3 separate regions of the Homo sapiens genome follow, and regions 1 and 2 are each linked to region 3. Evidence: fine-mapped expression QTL. A gene starts in region 3. Each other region holds a variant in brackets. All regions are shown on one strand. Distances are from middle to middle.

What was found. PIP is the estimated chance that this variant, and not a neighbour inherited with it, causes the effect.
Region 1: its variant is the best candidate, but not a certain one, in a credible set for the expression of ARF4 in whole blood (INTERVAL, PIP 0.60).
Region 2: its variant is the best candidate, but not a certain one, in a credible set for the expression of ARF4 in activated naive CD4 T cells (Schmiedel 2018, PIP 0.88).

Annotation. Positions count from the first base shown.
Region 1 is chr3:57,706,453-57,717,234 of GRCh38, reverse strand. No RefSeq gene overlaps it. Among named protein-coding and RNA genes, the nearest start is that of DENND6A-DT, 19 kb to the right of the region's middle. The variant C/A (reference allele first, on the strand shown) is at 6,083.
Region 2 is chr3:57,543,291-57,553,469 of GRCh38, reverse strand. It overlaps DNAH12 (dynein axonemal heavy chain 12), which reads left to right and starts at 9,126. Exons shown (of 74, transcript NM_001366028.2): 1 at 9,126-9,273. It also overlaps the pseudogene RNU6-483P. RefSeq lists an enhancer at 8,988-9,538. The variant A/T (reference allele first, on the strand shown) is at 7,146.
Region 3 is chr3:57,592,352-57,603,133 of GRCh38, reverse strand. ARF4 (ARF GTPase 4) reads left to right here and starts at 5,790. Exons shown (of 6, transcript NM_001660.4): 1 at 5,790-6,060. The coding sequence starts at 5,994. It overlaps ARF4-AS1 (ARF4 antisense RNA 1), which reads right to left and starts at 5,345. Exons shown (of 2, transcript NR_132370.1): 1 at 5,083-5,345; 2 at 2,218-2,391. It also overlaps a transcript of PDE12 not described here. RefSeq lists enhancers at 4,767-5,472, 4,987-5,546, 5,567-5,816, 5,827-5,896, 6,087-6,136 and 4 more.

The DNA.
Region 1 (10,782 bases), 110 kb before region 3:
AATGTACATTTCACCTCTGCACACATTTCTGCTCTGTAGTGACCTTCCTCTGGCTCCTATCATAACAAGTTCCTGTAGGTGTTTTCGGTCTCAGTGGAAATGTCACCTCCTCTGAGAGGCCTTCCCCCATTAACTATCTGTTATGGATTGAATTAGGTCCCTCATCCCAAATTCTCATGTTGAAATTCTAACCCCCAATGTGACTGTATTTGGAGATAGGGCCTTCAGTGAGGTAATTAAGGTTAAATGAGGTCATAAGGGTTGAGCCTTAATCCAATAGGATTTTTGTCCTTATAAGAAGAGGAAGAGACAGGCAGGGCACGTTGACTCACGCCTGTAATCCCAGCACTTTGCGAGGCTGAGGCGGGTGGATCATCTGAAGTCAGGAGTTTGAGACCAGCCTGGCCAACATGGTGAAACTCTGTCTCTACTAAAAAATACAAAAAAAATTAGCCAGGCATGGTGGCAGGCACCTGTTATCTCAGCTAGTCGGGAGGCTGAGGCAGGAGAATTGCTTGAACCTGGGAGGTGGAGGTTGCAGTGAGCCGAGATTGCTCCACTGCACTCCAGCCTGGGCAACAAGAGCAAAACTCCATCTCAAAAGAAAAAAAAAAAAAAGAAGAAGAGGAAGAGACAACAGAGGCCAAGTAAAGTGGCTCATGCCTATAATTCCAACACTTTGGGAGGCCAAGGTGGGAGGATTGCTTGAGCCTGGAAGTTTGAGACCTGGGCAACATAGTAATACTCTGTCTCTACAAAAAAAAAAAAAAAAAAAAATAGCTGAGTGTGTAGAGTGTGTCGGTAGTCCCTGCTGCTCGGGAGGCTGAAGTGGGGGATCACTTGAGTCCTGGAGGTCAAGGCTGCAGCAAGCTGAGATCGCGCCACTGCAGTCCAGCCTGGGGGACAGATCAAGACCCTGTCTCAAATTTTAAAAATTAAAAATAAATAAAATTGAATGAAAAAAAAGAGAGACAACAGAGAATCTGTGTGTGTGTGTGTGTGTGTGTGTGTTGTGTGTGTGTGTGTGTGTGTGTGTATACAGAAGAAAAGCCACATAAGGACACAGCAAGAAGGCAGCTGTCTATAAGCCAGGAAAAAAGGCCTCACCAGAAATCTAACTCTGATAGCACCTTGATCTTGGACTTCTAACCTCTAGAACTGTGAGAAAATAAATTTCGGTTGTTTAAGCCACCCAGTTCGTAGTATGTTGTTATGGCAGCCTCTGAACTATTTTCACTCACAATATCTCTGATGCCACATGTGTGGGTTTTTTTCTCATGCCAACGAATTCTCCAGCTCTCCAGATACCAACTGAGTGTCCAACAATTCAGTTCAATTCTGACACTCTCCCTGGAGTGAGCATGAGATCACACAAGTTATAGGCTCAGTCCCACAAGACTGCTCCCCCTTCAGATGTCAGTTGTAAGTCCCAGCTTGCCACCTGTACTTTTGACCAACCAGCTATAAACTGGAGGCTCCCATTACTCCCTCGTTATGTTTCATGATTTGCTAGAATGGCTCACATAACTCAGGAAAATGCTTTATTTACTATTAATGGTTTGTTTTATTTTATTTTATTTTTTGAGACGGAGTCTTGCTCTGTTGCCTAGGCTGGAGTGCAGTGGCACGATCTCAGCTCACTGCAACCTCCGCCTCCCGGGTTCAGATGATTCTCCTGCCTCAGCCTCCCGAGTAGCTGGGATTACAGGCACCCACCATCACGCCTGGCTAATTTTTGTATTTTTAGTAGACACGGGGTTTTGCCATGTTGGCCAGGCTGGTCTTGAACTCCTGACCTCAGATGATCCACTCACCTCAGCCTCCCAAAGTGCTGGGATTATAGGCGTAGGCCACTGCACCCAGCCCTATTAATATTTTTTTTAGATATAAAAGATATAACTCAGAAACAGTCAAATGGAAGAGATGAATAAGGCAAGGTACGGGTTGTGGGGAGGGCTTCCATGCCTTCCCTGGGAGTGCCACCCTCCAAGCATCTTGATGTGTTCACCAACCCAGGAATCTCTCTGAACCTTGTTCTTTAGGGTTTTTATGGATGCTTCATTGTGTAGGCATGAATGATTAAATCACTGGCATTGGTGATTAATTGGATCTCTGGTTCTTCTTCCCTCCCCACAGATCAGGCAGTGGGGCTAAAAGTTCCAAGCCTCTAATCATGTCTTGGTCTTTCTGGAAACTAGCCCCAATCCTGAAGCTATCTAGGGACACCCACCCACCAGTCGTCTTTTAGCATACACAAAATATTCTTATGTCTCCAGAGATTCCAAGGGTTTTAAGAGCTGTGTGCTGGGAACCGAGGTCATAGACCAAATATTTATTTTTATTATATCACTCAGCTCTAGCATACAATAAAGCAACTATCAGATCCATCTAAAGTAGGTCTTCCTCACCCCCACTAATCTATCTTAGCACAACGTTTACTTCTTCACATTTATAATTCATTATTTTATATGTTTGTTTAAGTTCTTTTTTTTTTTTTTTTTTTGAGACAGAGTTTCATCCTGTCGCCCAGGCTGGAGTGCAGTGGTGTGATCTCGGCTCACTGCAACCTCTGTCTCCCAAGTTCAAGCAATTCTCTTGCCTCAGCCTCCCGAGTAGCTGGGACTACAGGCATGTGCCACCATGCCTGGTTAATTTTTTGTATTTTTAGTAGAGATGGGTTTTCATCATGTTGGCCAGGCTGGTCTGGAACACCTGGCCTCAAGTGATCCGCCTACGTTGGCCTCTCAAAGTGCTGGGATTACAGGCATTAGCCACCACACCCAACCTATTTATTTAACTTCTTTTTACCTATTTCCCCCAATAAATAGTAAGCTCTGTTGTGGCTGCAGCTATGTCTGTTTTGCTCACTGTTGCAACTTCAGCAAGTTGTCAATGAACATTTGTGAATAGAACTTCAAAGCACACATTCAGCAATGAATGAATGAAACTTCAAAGTGCATATTAACCTGTGGGGGAAAAAGCCCTACAGATAAACAACCTTTATTCTTGAAAATTATTCTCAATAAATATGTGCCTAAAACAAAAAAAAAAATTTTTCGAGGCAGGGTTGCACTCTGTTGCTCAGGCTGGAGTGCAGTGGTGGGATCATGGCTTGCTGTAGCCTCGACTCCCTGGGCTCAAGCAATCCTCCCACCTCAGCATCCAGAGTAGCTGGGACTACAGGTGCACTCCACCACACCGGCTATTTTTTTATTTTGTAGTGACAAGGTCCTACTGTTTGCCCAGGCTGGTTTCGAATTCTGGGCTCAAATGATCTTCCTGCCTTGTCTTCCGAAAGTGCTGGGATTACAGGTATGAGCTACTGTGCCTGGTCAACATTTTTCTTTTTTTTTTGAAATATATATATAACATCACATTTACCATTTTAAAATGTACAGTTCGGTGGCATTAGGTACATTCCTGTTATTGTGTAGCTATCACCACTACTCATCTCCAAAACTTTTTCATCATCCCTAACTGAAACGTACGTCCATTAATTAGATAACAACGTCCCATTCCCTCCTCCCTCTAGCCCCGGGCAGACACCATTCTACTTTGTCTCTATGAGTTTGTTTGCTCTAGGTACCCCATATAAGTGGAATACAATATTTGTCTTTTCCAGTTGTTACAGTTGGTAGTTAGTTAGACATGAGCAGGGAAGGAGAGAGCCCCCAACATCCAGGAACGTCGCAACCATCAGGCACTTGTTAAACCGCGCCTAATGGTCAGGCGCTTGTTAAACTGCCTCTCTGAAATAATAATTAGTTGGCCGGGTGTGGTGGCTCAGGCCTGTAATCTCAGCATCTGCCGAGGTGGGCAGATCACCTGAGGTCAGGAGTTTGAGACCAGCTGGGCCAACATGGTGAAACACCGTCTCTACTAAAAATACAAAAATTAGCCAGATGTGGTGGTGGGGGCTACTCAGGAGGCTGAGGCAGGAGAATCGCTTGAACCTGGGAGGCGGAGGTTGCAGGGAGGCGGAGGTTGCAGTGAGCTGAGATCATGCCACTGCACTCCAGCTGGACAACAAGAGTGAAACTCCATCTCAAAAAATAAAATAAAATAAAGTAAAATAAAATAAAATAAAACATCTCAGGAGTTGAGTGAGTAGCCTCAAGCATGTGCACTAAGAGGCAAAATGGCAGAGTTTAACTGGTATGTGACCTTCCTTAGGAACACTTGACTGGTAAGGGAAAAATGCCTCAAGTCACTAAGAGGCAAAATGGCGGAGTATAAACACACAACTGGTAAGGGAAAAATGCCTCAACTGAGCATGCATACAACTTCAGTAAACACACTGCGCATGTGGCCCTTCTCAAGTGCTGGCAGGCCGCTTTGCATGCCGACAGCCTACCCCAAAAGGGAAGAGTCAGGGCAGAAGGGACACAACCCTCCAGAAGCATGCCAATGCATAAAACTCCAAGTCAGACCTGGTGTGGTGGCTCACACCTGCGATCCTAGCACTTGGGGAGACTGAGGTGGGAGCATTGCTTGAGCCCAGGAGTTCAAGACCAGCCTGAGCAACAGAGCAAGATCCCATATCCCATCTCAAAAAAAAAAAAAACAAAACTCCAAGTCAAAAGTCAAACTGTGTGCTTGATCTCTCAGGTTGCCCACTTGAAACCTCTTGCAAGTGTACTTCCTTTTGTTCCTGCTCTAAAGCTTTTTAATAAACTCTGCTTTAAAACTTGAGGCCAGGAGTTTGAGACCAGCTTGGTGACATAGGTAGACTCCTGTCTCTACAACAGCAAAAAGTCTATTCATTTTCAGATGGACATTTGGGTTGTTTCCACTTTTTGGCAATTGTAAATAAAGCTGCTATGAACACTGGTATGCAAATATCTGTCTGAGTCCCTGCTTTCACTTCAAGTATATACCTAGAAGTGGAATTGCTGGATCATATTGTAATTTTGTGTTTAAACTTTTTTATATTTACAAATATTAAATTTATTATAACTAAAATGAATGTGATTGTTCTCAGATTTGGCCACTTTATAGCTCTGTTTAAGGAGGGGATTTTTTAAAAAAGAGAATAATGCATCATAACTCGGTCAAGGCCGGGCACGGTGGCTCACGCCTGTAATTGCAGCACTTAGGGAGGCCGAAGCGGGTGGATCACTTGAGGTCAGGAGTTCAAGACCAGCCTGGCCAACATGGTGAAACCCCATCTCTACTAAAATACAAAAATTAGTTGGGTGTAGTGGCAAGTGCCTGTAGTCCCAGCTACTCGGGAGACTGAGGCAGGAGAATAGCTTGAACCCAGGAAGCGATGGTTGCAGTTGCGCCACTGCACTCCAGCCTGGGTGACAGAGTGAGACTCCATCTCAAAATGAACAAAAAAAAGAAAAAAAAACTTGGTCAAATTACTTTCACATTAAGAAAAAAACTTCTGAATGGGCATGGTGGCTCACACCTGTAATCCCAGCACTTTGGGAAGCCAAGATGGGCAGATCACTTGAGCTCAGGAGTTCACGATCAGTCTGGGCAACATGGCAAAACCTCATCTCTACAAAAAATACAAAAATTAGCCAGGTGTGATGCTGTGCCCCTGTAGTCCCAGCTACTCGGGAGGCTGAGGTGGGAGGATGGCTTGAGCCCAGGAAGTGGGGGTTGCAGTGAGCTAAGATTGTGCCACTGCACTCCAGCCTGGGCAACAGAGCCAGATCCTGTCTCAGAAAAAAAAAAAAAAGAAAAAGAAAAAACAAAGTTCTATAAAGGAAAACAAGACAAGCAACTCTTCAGTTTCACATAATTAAGGAAAAGGAGAAAGCATGCAAGCTGCATCATAGCTAAATTTATGAATATGTTTAATTTTTTGCCAGGCGCGGTGGCTCATGCCTGTAATCCCAGCACTTTGGGAGGCCAAGGCAGGTGGATCACTTGAGGTCAGGAGTTCGAAGCCAGCCCGACAAACATGGTGAAGCCCCGTCTCTACTAAAAATACAAAAATTAGCTGGGCGTGGCGGTAGTCCCCGCCACTTGGGAGGCTGAGTAATCCCAGCTACTCGGGAGGCTGAGGCAGGAGAATCACTTGAGCCTGAGAGGTGGAGGTTGCAGTGAGCCGAGATCACGCCACTACACT[C/A]CAGCCTGGGTGACAAAGTTAGACTCCATCTCAAAAAAAAAAATTTTTTTTTTTGAGGAAACTCCATAGTATTTTCCACAGAGGCTGCACCATTTTACATTCCCCTGACAACAAACAAGTGTTCCAATTTCTCCACATCCTTGCCAGAATTTAATATTCCCTCCCTCCCTCTCTTCCTCCCTTCTTCCCTTCCTCCCTCCCTCCCTCCCTTCCTTCCTTTCTCTCTCTCTTTCTTTTGCTATCCTAATGGATGCGAAGTGGTATCTCATTGTGGCTTTGTCTTGCATTTTCCTAATGATTAGTGATGCTGAACGTCTTTTCAAGTGTTTATTGGCCATCTGTATGTCTTTTTTGGAGAAATGTCTGTTCAAGTCCTTTGCCCATTTTTGAATTGGGTTGTTGGTTTTTATGTTGTTGAGTTATAGGAGTTCTTTATATATTCTGGATATTAATTCCTTATCAGATAAAGGATTTGCAAATATTTTCTCCCATTCTGTGGGTTGCCTTTTTACTCTGTTGGTGGTATCCTTTGATATATAAAAGTGTTTAATTTTGATGAAATCCAATTTATCTCTTTTTTCTTTTGTTGCCTGTTCTTTTGGCATCATATCAATAAATCATTGCCAAATCCAGTATCGTGAAGCTTTTCTCCTATGTTTTCTTCTAAGAGCTTTACAATTTTAGCTCTTATGTTTATGTCTTTGATCCATTTTGAGGATTCAGGGCAGTAGGGGGTAATGGTCTTACTCTGTCACCAAGACTGGCATGCAGTGGCATGATCATAACTCACTGCAGCCTTGAACTCCTGAACTCAAGTGATCCTCCTGCCTCGGCTTTCCCAGTAGCTGAGACTACAGCCATGGGCCACCATGCCTGGCTTTGAATTGTTTTTCATATATGTTAAAAGGTAAGGGTGCAACTTCATCCTTTTGCATGTGGGTATACAGTTTTCCAGTACCTTTGCTCTTGAAGACTGTCCTTTCCCCATTGAATGGTCTCAGCACTGTAGTCAAAAATCATTTGACTATGCAATGGTTTGTTTCCGGGCTCTGTATGGTACTCTATTGGTCTGTCTTTATGCCAGTACCACACTGTTTTGATTGCTGTAGCTTTGTAGTAAGTTTCGAAAACAGGGAGTATGAGACCTCTACTTTGTTCTTTAAAACCAAATTTTTAATCCACTCTCTCAAATTATTTGTAGGGAGTTGCCATCTCAGTAACACTGTAAAAATTGTACTTCACAGCAATTATTTCTAATGAGAACAAGTCCTCTTTGTAAGTTCTTGACAAGAAGATGTCTAGGAATAACACTGCTAGTTTTGAATATTTGTATTTTCTTTACTTCCTGTAGACAAAGCTCTTACTCACAAGATAATTAGAATTTGCAGTGTTTAAGTCTTTTGTTCAGGCTGGCACTGCCAAAGTGGGAAATCAGCCAAAGAAGACTTCCTGGATTAAGTTTAACTTAGGTAACTAACGTTTGCACTCCCAGACTCCATTAGTTTGCCCAGAAGAGAGAAGAGAACAAACATGTTCAAAACAAGCTGTTTGGGATTTTGCTCAGGCAAAGTCGTTGCACATTCAAGAAAAAACAAAAGTCAATGAGAGAAAAACCATGACAGAAAGTTGAAGCCAAACTCTGAGAACTGAGGCAGAGTCTTGGCTGTTGTACCTCTATAAATGATTTTTTAAAAGAGAGAGAGAGAATCACACTTATTTTAGTGTGGTCTTGGAGATTCTCTCTCCATTTCAGGTTGTGCTGAAGAAAAATTATAGTTCAAGAAACTTCTTGGTATTTTGCTTCTCTTCTAACAGAGGTAGGGTGGGGTAATAAGAAAGAATGTTGGACTGTGTCTAAGAGGTCTGTTTTCTAGTGGGATTTTGCCACTGACTTGCTATGGGAACTAAGTCACTGGCTCGCTGAACTGTAATTTCCTCCACACGTGTTGACAGAATTGTCACATCTCCAAAAACTCTTACAGCTTTAATAATATTACAGATTTTTTAAACCTCTTCTAGATATTATTTATTTTTATTCTGTAATTCTCAGGGAACACTGAATAACTTATTTGCATACATGTTTTATCTGTCCTGCTAAATTATAAAGTCCTAAAAAAATCTTACTCAGTTTGCTCTCCCTCAGAGTTTAGCATTGCATTTTTCACAAATGAAACAAATATTTGAAGGAGGGGAGAATGAATTGAGCTATCTCTTTTTGGTTTTTGTTGTTTTTTGTTTGTTTGTTTTTGTTTGAGACGGAGTTCCCTCTGTCGCCCAGGCTGGAGTGCAGTGGTGTGAGCTCAGCTCACTGCAACCTCTGCCTCCCCAGTTCAAGTGATTCTCCTTCCTCAGCCTCCTGAGTAGCTGGGATTACTGGCATGCACCACCACAGCCAGCTAATTTTTGTATTTTTAGTAGAGACTAGGTTACACCATGTTGGCCATGCTGGTCTCAAACTCCAGCCTCAGGTGATCCACCAGCCTCGGCCTCCTTCCAGACCTCAGGTGATCCACCAGCCTGGGATTACAGGCATGAGCCATCACGCCCAACCGCTGTCTCTTTTTGTTTTGAAGATTATTTTTCATGAGAATTGTTTATTTTTTGGTGAGATAAATATCCTTTACTAGGTGATAATGATTATATTATAGTAATGATATTTCCCCTATTTTATCCTATTAAAAATAATTTGTTGGCCGGGCATGGTGTCTCACACCTGTAATCCCAGCACTTTGGGAGGCCGAGGTGGGCGCATCGCCTAAGGTCGGGAGTTTGAGACCAGCCTAACCAACATGGAGAAACCCCGTCTCTACTAAAAACACAAAATTAGCCGGGCATGGTGGCACATGCGTGTTATCCCAGCTACTCAGGAGGCTGAGGCAGGAGAATGGCTTGAATCCGGGAGGCAGAGGTTGCGGTGAGCTGAGATTGCGCCATTGCACTCCAGCCTTGGCAACAAGAGCGAAACTCCGTCTCAAAAAAAAAAAAAAAAGAAAAAAATTAGCCAAGGATGGTGGTAACTGCCTGTAGTCCCAGCCACTCGCCTGAGGCAGAATGATCGCTTGAACCCAGGAGGCAGAGATTGTAGTGAGCTGAGATGGCGCCACTGCACTCCAGCCTGGGCAACAGAGTGAGACTCTGTCTTAAAAAAAAAAATTGTAGATTATTTTATTTTAAAATTTTTGTAGGTACACCGTAGGTATATATACTTATAGGGTACATGAGATATTTTGATATAGGCGTGCAATGCATAATAATCACATCATGGTAAATGGGGGTATCCATCCCCATCTACTTTCCATACCCATTAACCATCCCCACTTCCCCCTATGCCTCCACTACCTTCCCCAGCCTCTGGTAACCATCCTTCTACTCTGTCTCCATGAGTTCAATTGTTTTAATTTTTAGCTCCCACAAGTAAGTGAGAGCATGTGGTTTGTCTTTCGGTGTCTGGCTTATTTCACTTAACATAATGACCTCCAGTTCCATCCATATTGTTGCAAATGACAGGATCTCATTCCTTTTTATGGCTGAATTGTACCCCATTGTATCTGTACCATATTTTATTTATCCATTCATCTGCTGATGGACCCTTAGGTTGTTTTTGTAGATTATTTTAGGATATAAAAATCCAGAAACAATTCATTAGGTAACTATTGTATCATATGGCTTTTTTGGGGGCAAATAAACTCTAAGGGAAGATTCCTTTTTTATTTTTATCTTTTTTTGATAGAGAGTCTTACTCTGTTGCCCAGGCTGGCATGCAGTGGCGCGATCTTGGCTCACTGCAACCTCCGCCTCCCGGGCTCAAGCGATTCTCCCGTCTCAGTTTCCTGAATAGTTGGGATTACAAGCGTGCACCACCAAGCTGGGCTAATTTTATTTTATTTATTTATTTTTAAATTTATTTTATTTTATTTTTTGAGACAGAGTCTCACTCTGTCGCGTAGGCTGGAGTGCAGTGGCGTGATCTCCACTCACTGCAAGCTCCGCCTCCCAGGTTCAGGCCATTCTCCTGCCTCAGCCTCTCAACTAGCTGGGACTACAGGCGCCCGCCACCATGCCCGGCTAATTTTTTGTATTTTTAGTAGAGATGGGGTTTCACTGTGTTAGCCAGGATGGTCTTAATCTCCTGACCTCGTGATCTGCCCACCTCAGCCTCCCAAAGTCCTGGGATTACAGACATGAGCCACCGCACCCAGCCTCAAATTTTTTGTATTTTTAATAGAGACCCGGTTTCACCATATTGGCCAGGCTGGTCTCAAACTCCCAACCTCAGACAATTCGCCCACTTCGGCCTCTCAAAGTGCTGGGATTACAGGTGTGAGCCACTGTGCCCTGCCGGGAAGATTTTATATAAGCACTTGGCATGGTAAAAGACTAATGTAATGAATCAGGACTTAAAAGACTAATGTAATGAATCAGGACTATTAACCATGTGTAATCATATTAGTCAGGACTCTTACAGTTGCACATGTCAGAAGATCTAGCTCAAGCTGGCTTCAATCTAAAAGGAAAATTTATTGACTCATGTATGTGAAAAGTTCAGCCTTGGCTGAATCCAGGGTTGAATGATGTCATTTGGACTTTGTCTTCCTCTTTCTATTTCTTGGCGTTTTCTTTGTTGGGTATGCTCTTCCTTTAGAGTGATAAGGCTCCAAGCTTATATTCTATCCTTTCAGCAATCCCAGTGTCAGGACAGT
Region 2 (10,179 bases), 49 kb after region 3:
ATCATGTTGGGAGGGGTTGGAACCTCCACCATCATCTTCACAGCTTTATCCTCTGTACTGGGCTCTATACCTGGTATGTAAATCCAGGACACAGATGGGCTCTGCCCTTCATAGCTGTCCTGGATGCCACATGGATACTCAGGAACAGGGTGACTGGGGTTGGAGAAGGACAAAGGGATATTGGGAAAAGTGCCTCTGTCCAATATCTGAAAGGCCTTGGTTAAGATGAGACTGGCTGATGCAGGGTTAGGTTAGTTTTGTGTTTTCTTTGCTCTTTATTTATTTATTTTTTGAGATGGAGTTTCACTCCTTTTGCCCAGGCTGGAGTGCAATGGCATGATCTTGGCTCAGTGAAAACCTCCACCTCCTGGGTTCAAGCGATTCTCCTGCCTCAGCCTCCTGAGTAGCGGGGATTACAGGTATGCATCACTACACCCAGCTAATGTTGTATTTTTAGTAGAGACAGGGTTTCTCCATGTTGGTCAGGCTGGCCTCAAACTCCCGACCTCAGGTGATCCACCCACCTTGGCCTCCCAAAGTGCTGGGATTATAGGCATGAGCCACCACGCCCAGCCACTTTTTATTTTTTTAAGACAGGGTCTCATTCTGTCACCCAGGCTGGAGTGCAGTGGCAACATAATAGTTCACTGGAGCCTTGAACTCCTTGGTCTCCTACTTTAGGTACACGCAACTACACCCAACTAATTGTTTTTTATTTGTTGTAGAGATGGGGGATCCCACTATGTTGCCCAAGCTGGTCTCAAACTCCTGGGCTCAAGCGATCCACCTGCCTCAGCCTCCCAAAGGGCTGAGATTAGCAGTATGAGATGAGACACTATACCTGGTGGCTTTGTTTTTTCAAAATAAATAACTTTCTAGAATGGAAGGGGCTTAATGAAAATAAATAAATAAATAAATAACATAAATGGCTAGTTTTGCTTTCCATAAGCAAATGAAATACAGTTGTTAAGAACAAGTAAATTAGATAACTGTGAATGGGATAAGCATCTACAAATAAACTTGTCATAGTTTCCAAAACTTTTTCAGTAATTTAAAATCTTAAAGTCATGCTGTATTAAATGAAGTAATAGATAATTATAAATTGTCCGCATTGGCTGAGCACAATGGCTCATGCCTGTAATCCCAGCACTTTGGGAGGCTGAGACGGGAGGATTGTTTGAGCCCTGGGCAACATAGTGAGACCCCATCTCTTTTTTTTTTTTTTGAGATGGAGTCTTGCTCTGTCGCCCAGGCTGGAGTGCAGTGGCGTGATCTCGGCTCACTGCAAGCTCTGCCTCCTGGGTTCATGCCATTCTCCTGCCTCAGCCTCCTGAGTAGCTGGGACTGCAGGCACCTGCCACCATGCCCAGCTAATTTTTTGTATTTTTTAGTAGAGACAGGGTTTCACCGTGTTAGCCAGGATGGTCTCGATCTCTTGACCTCATGATATGCCCACCTCAGCCTCCCAAAGTGCTGGGATTACAGGCGTGAACCACCATGCCTGGCCCGAGACCCCATCTCTTAAAAAAAAAAAAAAGTAAAATGTCTGAGTTATTTCTAAGTGAAAATACTGAAACATTAATTATTAAACTTAAGTTTATATACTTTGATGTCTTTTTTTCATTTTTCCCACTTATTCTCAAGTTCTGTTTTTTTTTCATTTTTTTGATGTCTTGTTTCATATGATATAGAAAGCTAAATATATTTGGATTCATTAATAACACTTTGAGAAAACATATCTTTTTAGAAATTATTAAGTGGCTGTTGTCTGCAAATACTGATATAAAACAATTCAAAATTACTGACTTCCTGGGTTGTCACTAGAAATTAGGGTTACTAAGAGTTAAAATTCAAAGTAATATATGTAATTAAAACTACTGAAAGTAAGAAATAATTTTGTGGCCGGGCGCGGTGGCTAATGCCTGTAATCCCAGCACTTTGGGAGCCAAGGCGGGCGGATCACGAGGTCAGGAGATTGAGACCATCCTGGCTAACACGGCGAAACCCCGTCTCTACTAATAATACAAAAAATTAGCAGGGCGTGGTCGTGGGTGCCTGTAGTCCCAGCTACTAGGGAGGCTGAGGCAGGAGAATGGTGTGAACCCGGGAGGCGGAGCTTGCAGTGAGCCGAGATCGCGCCACTGCACTCCAACCTGGGCGACAGAGCGAGACTCCATCTCAAAAAATAAATAAATAAATAAATAAATAATTTTGTATACAGAGTACGATAAAAACAACATATCTTTTTAGTGAGGAAAAGTTAAGTCATGAGTATATGTGCTTTTGTTTAAAAATTTTTGTTTTGGCTGGGCACGGTGGCTCACGCCTGTAATCCCAGCACTTTGGGAGACTGAGGCGGGTGGATCACAAGGTCAGGAGATCGAGGCCATCCTGGCTAACACGGTGAAACCCCATCTCTACTAAAAATACAAAAGAAATTAGCTGGGCATGTAGTCCCAGCTACTCGGGAGGCTGAGGCAGGAGAATGGTGTGAACCCAGGAAGCGGAGCTTGCAGTGAGCCGAGATTGCGCCACTGCACTCCAGCCTCAGCGACAGAGCGAGACTCCATCTCAAAAAAAAAAAAAAAATTGTTTCTAGCCACTGAAACAATAACAAAAAAAATGAAAAACTTTTGCCTAATTAAAGGTTATTTAAAGATTGTCTTAGAATAAATATATGGCACTTTGGGAGGCCAGGGCGGGTGGATCACCTGAGGTCAGGACTCTGAGACTAGCCTGGCTAGCATGGTGAAACCCCATCTCTATTAAAAATACAGAAAAAAAAAAAATTTAGCTGGGCGTCGTGGTACGTGCCTGTAGTCCCAGCTGCTTGGGAAGCTGAGGCAGGAGAATCGCTTGAACCCGGGAGGGGGAAGTTGCAGTGAGCCAAGATTGCACCACTGCACTCCAGCCTGGGTGGCAGAGTGAGACTCTGTCTCAAAAAATAAAAATAAAAATAAATGTATGGAAAAATGTATACAAAAATAAACGGATATAAAAAGTTGGAGAAAAAATTTAAAAACTGTAAGAGGTTATAAAAGGCTTATGGATTTCTTATGTGGTCAAAGTTGACTGAGACTGGATCTATTTGTTTATAAGGTTTTATTATTAATATTTATTTATTCATTGTTTGTTTTGTTTTGTTTTGTTTTTAAAAGCAGGGTCTTGATCTGTGACCCAGGCTGGTGTATGGTGGTGTCGTCATAGTTCATTTGTAATCTCAAATTTCTGGGCTCAAGCAATCCTCTTGCCTCAGTCTCCCAGGTGGTTAGGACTACAGGTATGTAGCCATGCCTGGCTAATTAAAAAAACTTTTTTTTGTAGAGATGGGGTCTCGCTAGCTGTGTTGCCTAGGCTGGTCTTGCACTCCTGGCCTCAAGAGATCTTCCCACCTTGGCCTCCCAGAGTGTTGGGATTACAGGCGTGAACCACCATGCCTGGCCTTATGGTTTTATTGAAATTTGCTTTAGTAATACACTGATACAAAACTAAATTTGGTTCTCTCATTTGAACATGATTTTCTGGTGGTATTAATAAAAGATAGTAAGCCAGGTATGGTGGCTCACACCTGTAATCCCAGCACTTTGGGAGGCCAAGGCAGAAGGACTGCATAAGCCCAGGAGTTTGAGACCAGCCTGGGCAACATGGCAAAACCCTGTCTCTACCAAAAATACAAAAATTAGCTGGGCATGGTGGTTCATGCCTGTAGTCCTAGCTACTCTGGAGGCTGAGGTGGGAGGATGATTTGAGCCTGGGAGGCTGAAGTCGCAGTGAGCTGAGATTGCGCCATTGCACTCCAGCCTGGGTGACAGAGCCAGACCCTGTCTCAAAAAATAAAATAAAATATAGTAAAAGATTTTGTTCACTTTTTGAGTAAATTGCAAAAGAAAGAAGAGAGAGAGAGAGAAACAGATTGTGTGCCTCATGCTGTCTTTAAACAATTTTTAAAAAAATTTTTTGGGTCTTACTCTGTTGCCCAGGCTGGAGTGCAGTGGCATGATCTTGGCTCACTGCAACCTCCATCTCCTGGGTTCAAGCGATTCTCCCACGTCAGCCTCCCAAGTAGCTGGGACTACAGGCGCGCACCACCATGCCTGGCTAATTTTCGTATTTTTTGGTAGAGACGGGGTTTCACCATGTTGGCCAGGCTGGTCTCGAACTCCTGACCTCAAGTGATTTGCCTGCCTCAATCTCCTAAAGTGCTGGGATTACAGCTGTGGCCCACTGCACCTGGCCTGATTAAATTTTTTAATTAAAAATATTTTTTATAAACATAGTCTCACTCTGTTGCCCAGGCTGGAGTGCATTGGCTATTCACAAGTGCAGCCATAATAGCTCACTGCAGCCTTGAACTCCTGAGCTCAAGTGATCCTCCCACCTTGGCCTCCTGAGTACCTGGAATTATGGGCACAGGCCACTGCATCCGGCCCTGCTCTCTTTGTTAGATCTTTTCATTATTTGGAAAACTGAGTCTTCTCTCTATGAAAAAGTGAAGGATTTTGCTTTATAAAATCTTTTTTTAAAAAAACTATGGAATGCTTCACAAATTTGTGTGTCATCCTTATGCAGGCACCATGGTAATCTTTTCTGTATCATTTCAGTTTTAATATTATGTGCTGCCGAAATGAGCACTGCTTTGTAAAATCTTTTAAATTTTCACTTTGGCTAAATGAATAACTGTTATTTTACAGTGACCTATGATCTTCTTTTGATCAAATGTCTTAAAACTTTCCTCGTTTGTTTTCATTTAAAAACAATTTTTTTGAGACCGTGTCTCACTCTGTCACCCAGGCTGGAGTGCAGTGGTGCAGTAATGGCTTACTGCAGCCTCGACCTCCTAGGCTCAAGTGATCCTCCCCCCTCAGTCTGCCAAGTAGCTGGGCCCACAAGTGCACACCACCAACGCCTGGCTAAGAAATATTCTGTAGAGACAGAGTCCCCTGATGTTGCCCAGTCTGATCTCAAACTCCAGGGCTCAAGTGATCTTTCCACCTCAGCCTTCCAAAGTGCTGGGATTACAAGTTTGAGCCACTGAGCCTGGCCTTTTCTATTTTAATTGAGTGTTTTTATCCTTTGACATACTTGACAGGCTTCCCAAAGTCAAATTTCAAATTCTAAATTAAGTCTTTTCGGCCTCAAACTAACCTTAGGTTATCCCAGAATGGCCCCTGGAAGCCTAAGAGAGACGTATTAGGCTTATTTGATATGTAAATTATACAGGAAACCTTTGCATTACATTTATATGAACATGTTATTAATATGTGTTTTAAAAGTATATGAGATTCCTAAAAGTCTGATGTGTCTTTTTGTATGTTATCAGTCATAATTATGGCTACTATGTAAACTTGTTATAGACTACAGAAAAAAACAAATTTCCTTGTCAATCGCATCATTGTTGTAAACTCTTACCAGGTCTTTCACCATAGCCATTCTAAATCTTGTTGTTCGTAGTAAATTGCTTTATTCTAATGTTTTTTCTAAATGATCTTTGCAAGCAAATATAATCCTAAAGCATTGTGTCTTCAAAGAGGTTTATGAGAAGGATAAAAAGTCTGATACATACTCTGGAATACAGGCCTCTGTTGATTATTAAGTTGGACTGAATAAGAACTTGAGAAACTCCAATGGTAAAAACTGGACTTAAAATTGCTAATTTATCAAGTAGAACAAAAATTAATTACATGGGACGGAACTGATGAGGACTGAAATGATTTTAATGACTTTTTTGCTTGAAACGTTGCTTTTTATTATTATTTTCTTTCAGAGTTAAGAAAACTTTTTTTCTCTGCATTATCTGTAGTTTTATAGCAATTTGGTAACTTTTTGGTATATTTTGTGAGTAAAATTGAAATATTTATCTTTCTCTCTACCTGATATCTCCAGAATTAGGAAACTATTCATGAGTATTCTTGTTTTATGGCAATATTATTTATTTGTATAAGCTCAAGAGGAATCTGTTCTTGTAAAAGAACACACTTTTGGAAACATTGGCTATTAAAAAGGATGTACATCGGCCAGGCGTGGTGGCTCACACCTGTAATCCTAGCACATCTAGAGGCCAAGGCAGGAGGATTGCTTGAGGCCAGGAGTTCAAGACCATCCTGGCCAACATTGTGAGACTTTGTCTCTATAATAAAATTTTTTTTTAAAGTAAAAAAAAAAAGGACGTACATTGTATCAGTCAGGGTTCAAAGTGGGAAGCAGAACCACTAAGATATAATACATATCATCTATATCTATATCTATATCTATATCTATATATGTGTGTGTGTATGTCTATACATATATATATATTTTTTTAAACAAAGAATTGGCTTATGCAATGGAGGGGGCTGGTTAACCAAGTCCATGGTCTGTAGGGCAGACTATCTGTCAGGAAGGGAAGAACCAGAAAATGGAGAGCAGTTATAGACCCAGCTGCTGTTTGGAGTTTGACTCAGGGCATGCCCATCTCTTTATTATTATTTTTTTAATTTTTAATTTTTTAAAATAGAGACAGAGTTACACCATGTTGCCCAGGCTGGTCTCAAACTCCCTCAAGAAGTCTGTCTGGCTCGGCCTCCTAAGGTGCTGGGATTACAGGGTTGATCCACTTTGCCAGGCCTAAATCTTTTTAAAAGGATTTCTACTGATTGAGTCAGGCTCACCCAGGATAATCTTCTTAGATCAATGTCAATTGACCAGGGACTTGAATTGAGCTGTAATCTCCTCACAGCAGCCCTAGATTAGTGTTTGATTAATGACTGGGAGAAGGTGGGTATATCATACACAAGATTGCTGCCTTCTCTTTAGTTCTTCTAATTTAGCCTAACCAAATTGACATTCAGGCTAGATATGGTGGCTCATGCCTATAATCCCAACACTTTTAGGAAGCTGAAGCAGGAGGATTGCTTGAGTCCACTAGTTTGAGGCAAGCCTGTGCAACATAGTAAGACACTGTCCCAACAAAATATTTTTAAAAATTAGCCGATGTCGTGGTGTGTGCCTGTAGTCCCAGCTACTCAGGAGGCTAAGGTGGGAGGATCCCTTGAGCCCAGGAGTTTGAGGATGCAGTGAGCTATTGCTGTAGTCTCAGCAATGCACCAAGATGTAACAGTTTCTCATTGTCTGAGATAACACCTGGAGTTATTTGTCCCACCTCCAAG[A/T]TGATTAAGGAGCGCAGACCCAAAGGTTAGTTTAGAACGAACGTTTAATAAGAGAAAGAAGAAAGCTCTCTGCCAGCAGAGAGGGGGACCTGAATGGGGTGCCCCCTATGAGGCTGGGGTCCAGGGTTTTTATGGACTGGGAAGGGGAAGGAATGTGCTTCGTCCCCCGACCCCGCTACCCTGGGGCTTGGCCTGGTACTAATCAGGAGCTGAAATGATGATTCATAGATGCTGCTTAGCTTGGCTCGGGACCTATCAGGAACTGAAGAGAAAGTTTGGCCCTGGACCTTGGCCCAGGACAAATCAGGAGCTGAAGTGATGATTCCTAGAAGCCGGACTTACAATCCAAATAAAGGAAAGTAGAGTGCCCACTGGAACCTACTGGAGCCCACTGTGCCCATACCCACAAAAGGAAAATAAACTTTTTTTTCCCTGGGAGCCCATTGACTATACAAAGGACAAAGGCATTTCTTTGTTCCTTTATGTGAGTGAGGAGGAGGTCTGTGCAAGTTTTTGTCCAAATGGGCTGGAGATTTTTCTATCTGTGGAGCCGTGGGCATGTCTCCAGGCACAACACCCTGTGCTAGTTCCCTTATTGGTGCCTGCCGCTTGAATTTTTTCCCAGGCTGCTTTTTATGTTATGTGGGGATGAGGCACTGACCCATGGGCTGGGGGTTCTCTGGGGACCCTTCCCTTGCTATCTACCTAATGCAAAATCTAGCTGACTCCTTTCACTATGATGGTGCCGCTGCACTCCAGCCTGGGTGACAGAGCGAGAGCCCTGTCTCTAAAAAATAAACCCTAACAAATTGACATTAAAAAAACTGTCTAATCTGTCATAGGACTGAGTTTAAAAGAGAAAAGGTGGCATGGTGCAGTGGTTCACGCCTGTAATCCCAGCATTTTGGGAGGCCGAGGTGGGCGGATGACCTGAGGTCAGGAGTTCAAGACCAGCCTGACCAACATGGAGAAACCCCGTCTCTACTAAAAAAAAAAAAAAGAAAAGAAAAAAAATTAGTCGGGTTTGGTGATGCATGCCTGTAATCCCAACTACTTGGAAGGCTGAGGCAAGACAATCACTTGAACCTGGGAGGTGGAGGTTGTGGTGAGCACTCCAGCCTGGGCAACAAGATCAAAACTCTGTCTCAAAAAAAAAAAAAAAAGTCACATTATTTATACAAGTATTTTATTTTCTACAGAAAGATAATTTGCTTTTACAAACTACCAGGAAGTTTTACTTGTTCATTCACTCGCTTAAATGACATTTTAGAGCACCTACTCTGTGCCAGACACAATAGTGTAGGCTGTACTCTCATTAAAAAAAAAAAAAAAAATTACGTAGCAACTGGCACATAGAAGGTGCTCAAATATTTGTTGAATGAATATGCTGTTAACACACCGGCAGTATTCACTTCCCTAATTTAATTTTGGCACATAGTATTCTCGTAGGCTATTATCATTTAGATGTAGTATGCATTGTGCAGCTTCAAACAGCAAAATTTCACATCTTTCTCCCAGCATACCACTAAATTCACACACCTTAACCTGTTTGATTTTGCCAAAGAATTCCTGGAAGTGCTGTGTCAACAAATAGCAAATCTAGAAGCAAGATAAATTATATTGCTGATTAGTTACAATATTTACAGGGTGTCACTAGGGGACATTTGAAGACTTGATTCTCTTGCTGAGAGTGTTTCCATAAATCTGTTTTCCAACAGATCTAAATTTCCAGTCTTGCAGTTTTCCACAGTTTGAAGATTCTAATTTCCTGGTCCCCTTCCCAGGAAAGGCAGTTAGGTTAAAACAAACAAACAAAACCTCACACCCCATTTACTTGAGTAACGAATTATTGTTGTGACAGGTAATCCTAACCCCTTGCAGCTTGGCAACTGCCTCTCCAGGCAACCTTCACCCAGCCCCTCCAGCTGGGGCCGCCACAGTTTCCATGGCGACGACGTTGTTTCCAACCGGTCAGCGACCGCCCTTCTCCAGCTACTCGTTTGAGAGCCGGTGGCGTTCCGGAGGTTTCTCCCTCGTTATCCCCCTGCCTTTCACCTGAGGAGAGGCTCTGACTGTCTCTCTCTCTCTCTGGCGTCTGCGCAGCGGGGAAGTAGTGAGAAACAATCAGGTACTTGTTCTCTGCTGTTCTCTTCCTTTCTCTCCCAGGGCAGGTATCGCGATTTGGGTGCCAACTTAAACACTCTTTCAAGGCAGGAATCTCCAAATCCTGTAGGCATTCATGGCAAATATAGTTGTTATCACAGTACAATTTTTTTTTGAGACGGAGTCTCGCTTTATCGCCCAGGCTGAAGTGCGGTAGCGGGATCTCAGCTCACTGCAACCTCTGCCTCCCAGGTTCAAGCGATTCTTGTGCCTCAGCCTCCTGAGTAGCTGGGATTACAGGCGCCTGCCACCACGCCCGGCTAATTTTTGTATTTTTAGTAGAGATGGGGTTTCACCATGTTGGCCAGGCTGGGCTCGAACTCCCGACCTGAGGTGATCCGCCCACCTCGGCCTCCCAAAGTGCTGGGATTACAGGCGTGAGCCACCGCGCCTGGCCCACAGTAAAATTTTTGAGCATTTACATGACATTTTATATTTGCCATGCATCAAGTATGCCTATTTTTTGCTTGATCATAGCATCACTTTCTTGGAAGGCAGCAAGACTAAGATATCATACTGATGTTTAAAAATATTAATGATTGGCTGGGGGCGGTGGCTCACGCCTGTAATCTCAGGACTTTGGGGGACCGAGGCGGGAAATCATCTGAGGTCAGGAGTTCGAGACCAGCCTGGCCAACATGGTGAAACCCTGTCTCTACTAAAAACACAAAAAAGTAGCTGGGCGTGGTTGCGCACCTGTAGTCCTAGCTACTCGGGAGGCTGAAGCAGGAGAACCACTTGAACCTGGGAGGCGGAGGTTGCAGTGAGCCAAGATCGCGCCATTGCACTCCAGCCTGGGCGACAGAGCAAGAATCTGTCTCAAAAAAAAAAAAAAAAAAAAAAAAACCATTAATGATGTTAAATATCAGCT
Region 3 (10,782 bases):
GTGCAGTGGCACGATCTTGGCTCACTGCAACCTCCGCCTCCCGGGTTCAAGCAATTCTCCTGCCTCAGCCTGCTGAGTAGTTGGGATTACAGGCGCCCGCCACCATGCCTGGCTAATTTTTGTATTTTTAGTAGAGACGGGGTTTCACCATGTTGGCCAGGTTGGTCTCAAACTCCCACCTTGGCCTCCCAAAGTGCTGGGATTACAGGCATGAGCCACTGCACCTGGCCTAACTGGGAAACTTTTATAAATGCTAAATGGTAGGCCGGACGTGGTGGCTCACGCCTGTAATCTCAGCCCTCTGGGAGACCGAGGCGGGTGGATTACCTGAGGTCAGGAGTTGGAGACCAGCCTGGCCAACATGGTGAAACACCGTCTCTACTAAAACTACAAAAACTAGCCAGGCGTAGTGGCGCACGCCTGTAGTCCCAGCTACTCGGGAGGCTGAGGCAGGAGAATCGCTTGAACCCAGGAGACGGAGGGTGCAGTGAGCCAAGATCGTGCCACTGCATTCCAGCCTGGGCAGCAGAGCGAGACTCTGGCTCAAAAAACAAAAAAAGAGGAGACAATAAAGGGCACTGAGAGTAAGGGAAGGTTTTTAACTTCATGGCAGAGAGCTTGAGTTGTTGAGAGGTAATAGGGTGGGCCAAACGATCCAAACACTCAGAATTCACATACCAATCCCCTTCTGGAAGGGAAAGTGGGTGGACAAGACTCTCTGTAGAAGCACAGATATTCTTGTACTGTGCAGATAAATAAGTGTTTAGAGAATGTGAACTTTAAACAAGAGCAGTGGTGAATTACAGTCAGATGAGATCAAAGTAGAGTTTACAAAGGTTAGGAGGAAATGGCAAAAATTATACTGTCATGTAATGAATAAGGGGACTACAACAGAATTGAATCAGTCTCGCAGAGAACAAGGTGAGTGGCATGGATTAAACTGTTGAGAGGATTAAATGGGATAATGCACATTAAGTACAATGGCATATTGTAAGTGCTCAGTAACCACTTATTGCTATTAAATAGTACCGCTATTTATAGAATATATCTGCTCAAATGTTTTAAAAAATTCAAAGGCAGGCCATGCATGGTGGCTCACACCTGTAATCCCAGCACTCTGGGAGGCCGAGGTGGGCAGATCACTTGAGGTCAGGCATTCAAGACCAGCCTGGTCAACACAGTGAAACCCCATCTCTACTAAAAATACAAAAAAAAAAAAAAATTAGCCGGGTGTGGTGGTGTGCACCTGTAGTCCCAGCTACTTGGGCAGCTGAGGCAGGAGAATCACCTGAACCCAGGAGGCAGAGATTGCAGTGAGCTGAGATAGCGCCACTGCACTCCAGCCTGGGTGACACAGCGAGACTGTCTCAAAAAAAAAAAAAAAAAAAAAGAAGGAAAGAAAAAAGGAAGAGATATGGTTTCCTTAATAAGCTTGCATTCTAATGAGACATAACAATCAGCAAAAATAATTATAGTTGTACCTGGGTATTTGGGGAGATTGGTTCCAGGATCCCCGTGATACCAAAATCTGCAGATGCTCAAGGCCCTTACAGTTGCCATTCTGCATCTGCAGGTTCCACATCTGCTATTGGCTGAATCTGTGGGTTTGAAACCTGAAGATACAGGGGGTCTGCTGTCTGTACATTATTAAACCCAAGGGACTGGAATGTAAATTCCATATACATATTTGTGACTAAAAAGATCTCACTAAGAAAAATAGTCAGAGGCTGGGCGCGGTGGCTCACACCTGTAATCCCAGCATTTTGGGAGGCCGAGGTGGGTGGACCACCTAGGTCAGGAGTTCGAGACCAGCCTGGCCAACATGGTGAAACCCCCTCTCTGCTAAAAATACAAAAATTAGCCGGGCGCAGTGGCATGTGCCTGTAATTCCAGCTACCCCGGAGGCTGATACAGGAGAATCGCTGGAACCCAGGAGGCAGAGGCTACAGTGAGCCAAGATCGCCCCACTGCACTCCAGCCTAGGTGACAGAGCAAAAAAAAATAAAATAAAATAACCAGAGATGAGGAAAACATACTACCTAGTGTAGTATGTTATGAGTACATGCTTTTGAGCCTGGGCAACTTTATACAACACTGTGTTCAAAAGCGATGATTAAATGAAGTACATGGCTTAGCAAGTGATCAATAAACTATAGCAATTTTTCTTGTAGGGCTCAATTTCCTCATTTTTAAAAATAAGAAAGATTCTCTTCTGGGTTTGTATTGATGAAAGGTGAATAGAAAAATATTTTATTTTTAAAATATTTTTTAAAATAGAAATGGCATCTCACTATATTGCCAAGGCTGGTCTGGAACTTCTGGGCTCAAGTGAGTCTCCCATCTTGGCCTCCCAACATGCTGGGATTACAGGTGTGAGCCACCATGCCTGACCTAGAAAAATAAAATAAAATAAAAATAAATTTGGGGTCTGGGCACGGTGGCTCACACCTCTACTACCAACACTTTGGGAGGCCAAGGCGAGTAGATCGCCTGAGCTCAGCAGCTGGATACCAGCTTGGGCAACATGCTGGTCTCTACAAAACGCCAACTCTACCAAAAATACATAAAATAGCTGGGCATGGTGGAATATGTCTGTGGTCCCAGCTACTTGGGAGGCTGAGGCAGGAGGAAAAAGGGAGGGGAGGGGAAGGGAGAGGAGGGAAAAGGGAAGGGAAAAGGGAACAGAAGGGGGAAGGGAGGGGAAAAGGGAAAGGAAAGGAAGGGGAGGGAAGGATGAAGGAAAGAAAAGAAAGAGAAAGAAAGAAAAGAAAGGAAAGAAAGAAAAAGAAAAGAGAAAAGAAAAGAATTTGGCCGGGAACAGTGGCTCAGGCCCATAATCCCAGTACTTTGGGAGGCCAAGGCAGACAGATTGGTTGAGCTCAGGAGTTTGAGACCAGCCTTGGCAACATAGCAAAACCCTGTCTCTACAAAAAATAACACTACTTAGCCAATGTGGTGGTGTACCTGTAGTCCCAGCTACTTTGGGGGCTGAGGTGGGAGGATCACTTGATCCCAGGAGGTTGAGTAAGCCGAGATGATGCCACTGTACTTCAGCTTGGGTGACAAAGTGAGACCCTGTCTCAAATAAATAAATAAATAAATGTAAGAAGGTAGTATAGTGTAGTGGTTAAGAGTGTTAATGGCTGGGTGCACTGGCTCACACCTGTAATCCCAACACTTTGGAGGCTGAGGTGGAAGGATTGCTTGGGCCCAGGAGTTCCAGACAGGCCTGGGCAACATAGCCAGAATCCACTTATTTATTAAAAAAAAAAAAAAAAAAAGAGTGTAAATACCAGTTAATACCAGAAGAAATGGGTTCTTATAGCTGTTCCACTGCTTTTAGCTGTGTGACCTTGGGCAGAATATTTAATCTCTCTGACCCTGATTATTTTTATCTGTACAATAGAGATATTACAGTCTGCCATTAACATCCTGTTTTGTAATTTACATTAGCCACTTGATGTGTAGTGTATTCTTACTGAAAAATCTGTTTTGACAACTTTTGTTTTGGTTCAGGTTTTGGAGGCTAGAGATGGAGAACAGAATTCTTTCGATTTATTTTGCATAACTAAACAGAAAACATGGATTAAGATTTGGAATAAGTTACAGGGAGGAGGGCTCATACGGTTTGTCTTTTGAATTTAAGAAGACCCTAAGAATTAGTTGAAGATTGTTTTAAGGAATTCTACTATATAAAACTAAAAACAGACATAAGGCCTAAAGTGTGAAAGGAAAATAAATCTTGGGGCCTCCACCTCACTAAGCTAAAGAGAAAAGTCAAGCTGGGAACTGCTTAGGGCCAACCTGCCTCCCATTCTTTAAAAAGTCACCCCTCTGCTCACTGAGATAAACGCATATCTGACTGCCTCCTTTGGAGAGGCTAATCAGAAACTCAAAGGAATGCAACCATTTGTCTCTTATCTATCTATGCCCTGGAAGCTCCCTCCCCACTCAGAGTCTTCCTGCCTTTGCTTTGAGTTGTCCAGTCTTTCCAGAATGAACCAATGTTCATCTTACATATATTGATTGATGTCTCATTTCTCCCTAGAATGTATAAAACCAAACCGTGCTCTGATCACCTTGGGCACATGTCTACAAGACCTCCTGAGGCTATGTCATGGACGCGTGTCCTCAACTTTGGCAAAATTAACTTTCTAAATTAACTGAGGCCTGTCTCATATTTTGGGGGTTCACAAAAGGATACAAGAAGGTCTTGTCACTTAGCAAGCTTCCAAAATGCAATTTTGAGTTATTCAACTGCTAAGCAACTCTTTACATGTATCTCCAATGCAAAGGAGGGTACTTCTGAGTAAAGAAGTTTTTGGGGTTTTTTTGTTGTTGTTGTTTGTTTTTTTAAGACAGTCTCGCTCTGTCGCCCAGGCTGGAGTGCAGGGGCGCGATCTCCGCTCACTGCAACCTCCGCCTCCCGGGTTCACGCCATTCTTCTGCCTCAGCCTCCGGAGTAGCTGGGAGTATAGGCACCCGCCACCACGCCCGGTTAATTTATTCTATTTTTAGTAGAGACTGGGTTTCACCGTGTTAGCCAGGATGGTCTCGATCTCCTGACCTCGTAATCTGCCCGCCTCGGCCTCCCAAAGTGCTGGGATTACAGGCATGAGCCACTATGCCCGGCCAGAAGTTTTTGCTTTTAATTGCCCAGGGCCACTCCTAAGAAATAACAGTCTCTGAAGGGTAGATAAGGTAGTGCTACCAAGAGAAGCGTTACTCAGCAAGCCTTCAAAAATATAAAAATAACTTACTGTTTCTGAAAGTTTGCAAGTTTTTCTTATTCAACCCCATCCTATGGAAATATACCAGTTGGAATAAGCAACTACAGAACCACATAGGACGGCACTACTAGAAAAATAGATTAAATCTTTATCCTGGCAATGAGTCTAATACATTTATCATTGCTGTGAATTTTAAAAGGTGTAGCAGGCCGGGCGCGGTGAGTCACCGCGCCAGGCCCGATCATAAACACTTTTAAAGTGAAGAGGCTTTCCGCTTCCTCAACATAAGGAGTAAATCTTTAATGCTGCTTCTAGGAAAAAAAGTACAAGAAAAGCAAGACTTCCTCCTTGCCTTCTCTTTAAAAAGCAACAGCCGATGAACACGTGTTGGAGCGCTCTCGCCTTGACAGAATTAGAGATCTTCAGAATCACTTGGCGTGGTGGTCGAAGCGTCTAGCCCTAGCTCATTAGGGTGCCACAGTTTCTCGGCCCACAAGTCAGCTTTTAACCACTTTTCTCCGCAAAAGACCGGACCGGTCTTCATGCGTCAACTAAAGCAAGCGTCTGGTCCCGTGTGTGAAACGTGTAAGTTCATGGCATCAGGGAATACCCATCGCGCGTACCGTAATAGAAGAGGGCGAGGTTCCTCACCTAACCCATAATGCTCAGCTCGCCTTTCCGGAAGCAAGGACTATCACCCCGACAATACCTTCATCCGGGCGGAAGCGTCTCACCCTGAGTCTGATTTGGCAGTGACGAAGCGAGGTATTGTGGGACTTTGTCCGTCTCCCAGTACGCATGTGCCTCAGCCGGCCTCTCCCGGCTCCTGGGGCCACGTCCGGGCGGTGGCGCCGTCGAGAGATGCTCGTCAGCGAAACTGGCCAATCCCCTGCAGGCGCAAGCGCAGTGGCTCGGGCGCACCGGAAGCGCAGGGGGATGGGGCGGCGGTGACGCGATTCTGTCCGCGTTGGAGGGGCCGGGCCGCTGCTGGAGTCGCCGCGGCCGCCGCGTGACGTGGCACAGCCAGAGCCTAAAGGCTAGAGCCGGAGCTGCCGCGCCAGTCGCCTAGCAGGTCCTCTACCGGCTTATTCCTGTGCCGGATCTTCATCGGCACAGGGGCCACTGAGACGTTTCTGCCTCCCTCTTTCTTCCTCCGCTCTTTCTCTTCCCTCTCGTTTAGTTTGCCTGGGAGCTTGAAAGGAGAAAGCACGGGGTCGCCCCAAACCCCTTCTGCTTCTGCCCATCACAAGTGCCACTACCGCCATGGGCCTCACTATCTCCTCCCTCTTCTCCCGACTATTTGGCAAGAAGCAGATGCGCATTTTGATGGGTGAGTGAGGGGCTGCGAGTCAGGCGGGACCTGGGAAAGGCAGGGTCTCCACAATTGGGGTGGCCTCTGGGCCTGTTTTTTTCCTCCGCCCGCTGTGGTGGGGGAGGGGCGCCGGGTCGGGGGTCGGAAGGAATTCTTAAGGGGGAACAATGGAGCGGAGGGTGAGCGATCCCCCCCGCCCCCGATCTGTCGCCAGACGAGACAGGGACAGGGCTTCGGGCAAGATTTCTTTCTGGACTCGGCTTTTTCTCCTTGATCTTATTGAAAGCTGGACAACATTGGGCAGAGATGTGGGGAAAGCCAACTCTGGGAAGCAAACACTTGGCGAGGCCCTTTCTGGGGGTGCGATCTGCATACCTTCTTGCCCGGGTGTGGACAGCGGTCAGGAGGGAGGCAGAGCAACTCCAGCCTTTTCCCTCCCCTTCTGCGTTTCGTGTACAGTCCCTGCATACTCCATTGGTATGTAAGCCAGCGGCCACCCGGAGCCTGGAGCCGCCCGGGGCAGGAAGTTGCGGTGGCCAGGGAGCACCCAAGGTTTCCGAAGAGTCTGGAGTCCTTCAGCGCTCACTTTGCTAAACTTGGCCTTGCGCTGGATTCCGTTTCAAGTTTTTCGCTCCTTGTTAATCTCATTCTCCGAAAACTGAGCTTATCTTCTATTTCTTTGACTATTTTCAAAAACTTTAAATGTGTTTGGTTTATTCTCCTAGGTTTTTAAGCTTATTTTTAGGCGGTCTAAGGTCTAATGCAAAAAAATTTTAGAAACGAATTTTTAAAAAATACCTGATAAATTTTCAAGTAACTGAACATCATGACGCTGAATTTTATGGTAGTCTTGTTAAATAGTAACTACAATTTTTTTAAAATTTCTTTTTAGAAAGTTGACTTTTTAAAAACTACTTTTTAGGGGGCGTGTTTTTGCTCAGCTGAGGGAGAAGGGCTGTCAGTTGGCTGAAGTAAGCAACCGCTCCCGGTTACTGTAAGCAGTCTACATCACAGCTGAGCTCCATGGACTAGAATAACGCTGAAAGAAGCCCCTCTAACTTTGAACGTTGAAACTTGTTGGTTCATTAGCTTGTTTTCTACCGGAGGAGGTTTTATTTTTCTCTTCCTTTTTTTTTTTTGCAGACGGAGTTTTGCTCTTGTCACCCAGGCTGGAGTGCAGTGGCGCAATCTCGGCTCACTGCAACCTCCACCTCCCGGGTTCAAGAGATTCTCCTGCCTCAGCCTCCCGAGTAGCTGGGATTACAGGCATGCAACACCACGCCTGGCTAATTTTTTGTATTATTAGTAGAGACGGGGGTTTCACCACGTTGGCCAGTCTGGTCTCGAACTCCTCACCTCAGGTGATCCACCCACCCAGGCTTCCCAGAGTGCTGGGATTACAGGCGTGAGCCACCGCGCCCGGCCGGAGGTTTTATTTTAGAGCTGTACTACCATCAAAACTTGCAAACACAAGCTTCTGTAATATTTCAAGGTATATAAAGAGTAACAGTATATACATTGGCTCATGTTTATTTTCCTCTTAGCGTACTTACACTTTGTGAATCAATTGTTTATGAGTCATTCATAAAGTATTTTTTCTTTCAAAGTTTCTTAGATTTCCTTTGTCAAGAGGACAGAATTATTTTAGGAGGGCAAGCATATTTAAGTTTTCAGTGGCTGAAAGTTGGCAGTCTGAAAAAGGATCGGAAGTTAATGGGAGGACTTCGGACTGTGATAAATGAATTTCCAGTCTGTTCGTTAAAGAGATTTAACAATATATGGTTATGTTCCAGAACACATAGTATATTGGTCTTTTTACTTAAGATTTATTGTAAATGAATTGCTATTTTTCAATTCCTTAGTCTTTTGTGATTGATGAAAGTATCAGAGGGGCAAGGAATATAGAAGTATGCTACCAGCATTTTCATATATTTACTATATTGGGAGGCATTTCCCTCCACCCCAAAAAATGATTCGAAGAAAATGGGAGAGAAAAAATATTTAAGTTTCTGCATTTGTGTGGAGGATTTAGGAGTTACTTGTTTTTAATGTTTTATTACTCAGGCATGCTATCGTTTTGCACTTTAATTTTGGGATAATCAGTTTTCCTTGACTAAAAAACACTTCAGTCACAAGATCGACATTTATGGTAACTCATCAAAGGAAGTATCAACGTACGAGGGAGATATGTGCATGAACAGGGAAAAAGGTGGTTTGGAAGTTTGATAATTCTTACATTTTTCTGTCTGGCTTTATGAGTGACTGACAGCAAAAATAATAGATCACTTTTAAAGTGTCTGCCCCATTCAACTGTTGGAATTATTAATGTTTTACATTAGTGTGCTTCGTTTTTCTTTATAAAGCTTAGATAAGATTCATGCCCTCCTGAGTCAGTGTTTTATTCAGACTTTACCATTTTAAAGTATAAAGGAGATAGCAGTTAGCTGATGTGTCAGGTTTGCCAAACTACTATGGAGAAGTTTTAAATTTAATTCGTACACCTGCTGTTCTTCAAAAGTTCAAGTAACTTTAAAAGATATTGGAAGTTAGCTTGTAGTTAACTGTAATTAAAAAACCAACACAGTGTATCAAATTTAACATCATCTGAACTATTGATTGACAGAAATTATGTACTAGTTATAAGGGTAAGTTATGCAAGTGATGATATTGCCCATACTGCTCGAGTTAGGAAGCAATAGCTTCTGGCCAGGTGTGGTGGCTCACGCCTATTATCCCAGCACTTTGGGAGGCCAGGTTGGGAGGATCACATTGAGGCCAGCCTGGTCAACATAGCAAGACCCCGTATCTATTTGAAAAAAATAAAAATAAAGCAATAGCGTCTGTATTTTATTTTGTTTATTTTTTTTGAGATGGAGTTTCACTCTTGTCTCCCAGGCCAGAGTGCAATGGCATGATCTAGGCTCACTGCAACCTCTGCCTCCTCAGTAGCTGGGATTACAAGCGCCCGCCACCAAGCCCAGCTAATGTTTGTATTTTTAGTAGAGACGGGGTTTCACCATGTTGGCCAGGCTAGTCTCGAACTCCTGACCTCAGGTGATCCACCTGCCTTGGCCTCCCAAAGTGCTAGGATTACAAGCATGAGCCATCACACCCAGCCAGCTTCTGTATTTTGTATATATTTTTTAAATAATTATGTTTTTTTTCCTTTTGAGTAGCTGAGACAACAAGGACATGCCATTAGACCTGCCTGGCTAATTTTTGACATTTTTTGTAGCAAGAAGGTCTCACTATCTTGCCTGTTCTTGGGCTGAAGCGATCCCGCCCACCTCGGCCTCGAAAAGTGCTAGGGTTACAGGGCGAGCCACTGAGCCTGGCTGCATTGTCCTATTTTAAGTCTGGTTTCTGTATCTTGATCCATGATAAGATGTAATGTTGTTAAGTGAATCCTTAAATTATGTATATATCCAAAAATACTAATGTGTTCTGCAGAGGAATTACTAATTCTGATCTCTTTACTTTGAACTTTCCAGTTCTTGCCTGTTGAAAAGCTGAAAAAGTGTTACTTTTAAAAAGTTTGCTGATATCAGTGTAGTGTAGTATGCCAGTGTAGTTCTGTATTGTCTTGAATGTGACTGTGGTTTTGGGGGTCTAGAGATGTTCAGGAGAAAGGATCCTATATTTGTCACTTTAAAAAATATTACCAAGCTAAAGAGTGGTGTTTTATATTTGTTTCTTAGCATATTTTGTAAATCCATCTATTTATGTAATTTTTTTATGTTTTTCCTCTTGATTCTAAAAGTAGTATGTGTTCCTTCTGTTACATTTAGAAAACAGGTAAAAGAATAAAGTGATAATTACCTATCTGTAATTCCACTATTCTGTCATATTTACTCTCAGCCTTATTTTTATTTTTATTTTTTGAGACAGGGTTTTGCTCTGTCACCCATACTCTGGGGCACATACAGGTGGCATGATCATAGCTCACTGTAGCCTTGAACTCCTGGATTCAAGCAATCCCTCCTGCCTTAGGCTCTGGAGTAGCTAGGACTACAGGCGCCACTATGCCCGGCTAATTTTTAAATTATTTTGTAGAGAATGGGGGTCTTGCTCTGTTGCCCAGCTGATCTCAAACTCCTGGGCTCAAGAGGTCCTCCTGCCTCGACCTCCCAAAGTGCTAGGATGACAGGTGTAAGCCACCACACCTGGTACACGCTCAGCCTTTTAAGAGGAAGTTTTTGTTCCTCTAAAATTGTAGTTGTGATGTTTAGTTTTGTGTCCTCTCTTTTTGATTTAGCTTATTACAAGCATTTTCTCAGGTTATTGGTTGAACATATAACTGCCAGCCTTTAAAAAAACAGGCTCTTCTGATTATGTGAATATAGGAAACAGAAAAGGCAAAAATCCTGTTTCATGCCACTGGCTGATAGGTACAGCCATCCTTAGATGCACCCTTTTGCATTATTATAGTAGTGCAATAGGCTGTCGGAAACTTTGATAATTTGCTGCTAATTAACTGATAAAAATGTAGATGTTTCTCATCCGTGTGTAGAAGCAGAACCTAAGTTCACATTTTTCCGTATAACTGGTGGCCTGAGTTTCAGTTTGGTTGGTCAAGCATCTGATGAATTTGATAAAAAATATTTGAGATGGAGTCTCACTGTGTCACCCAGGCTCGAGTACAGTGGTGCAATCTCAGGTCACTGCAACCTCCGCCTCCTGGGTTCAAGCAATCCTTCTGCCTCAGTCTCTCCAGTAGCTGGGATTACAGGCCCCCTCCCA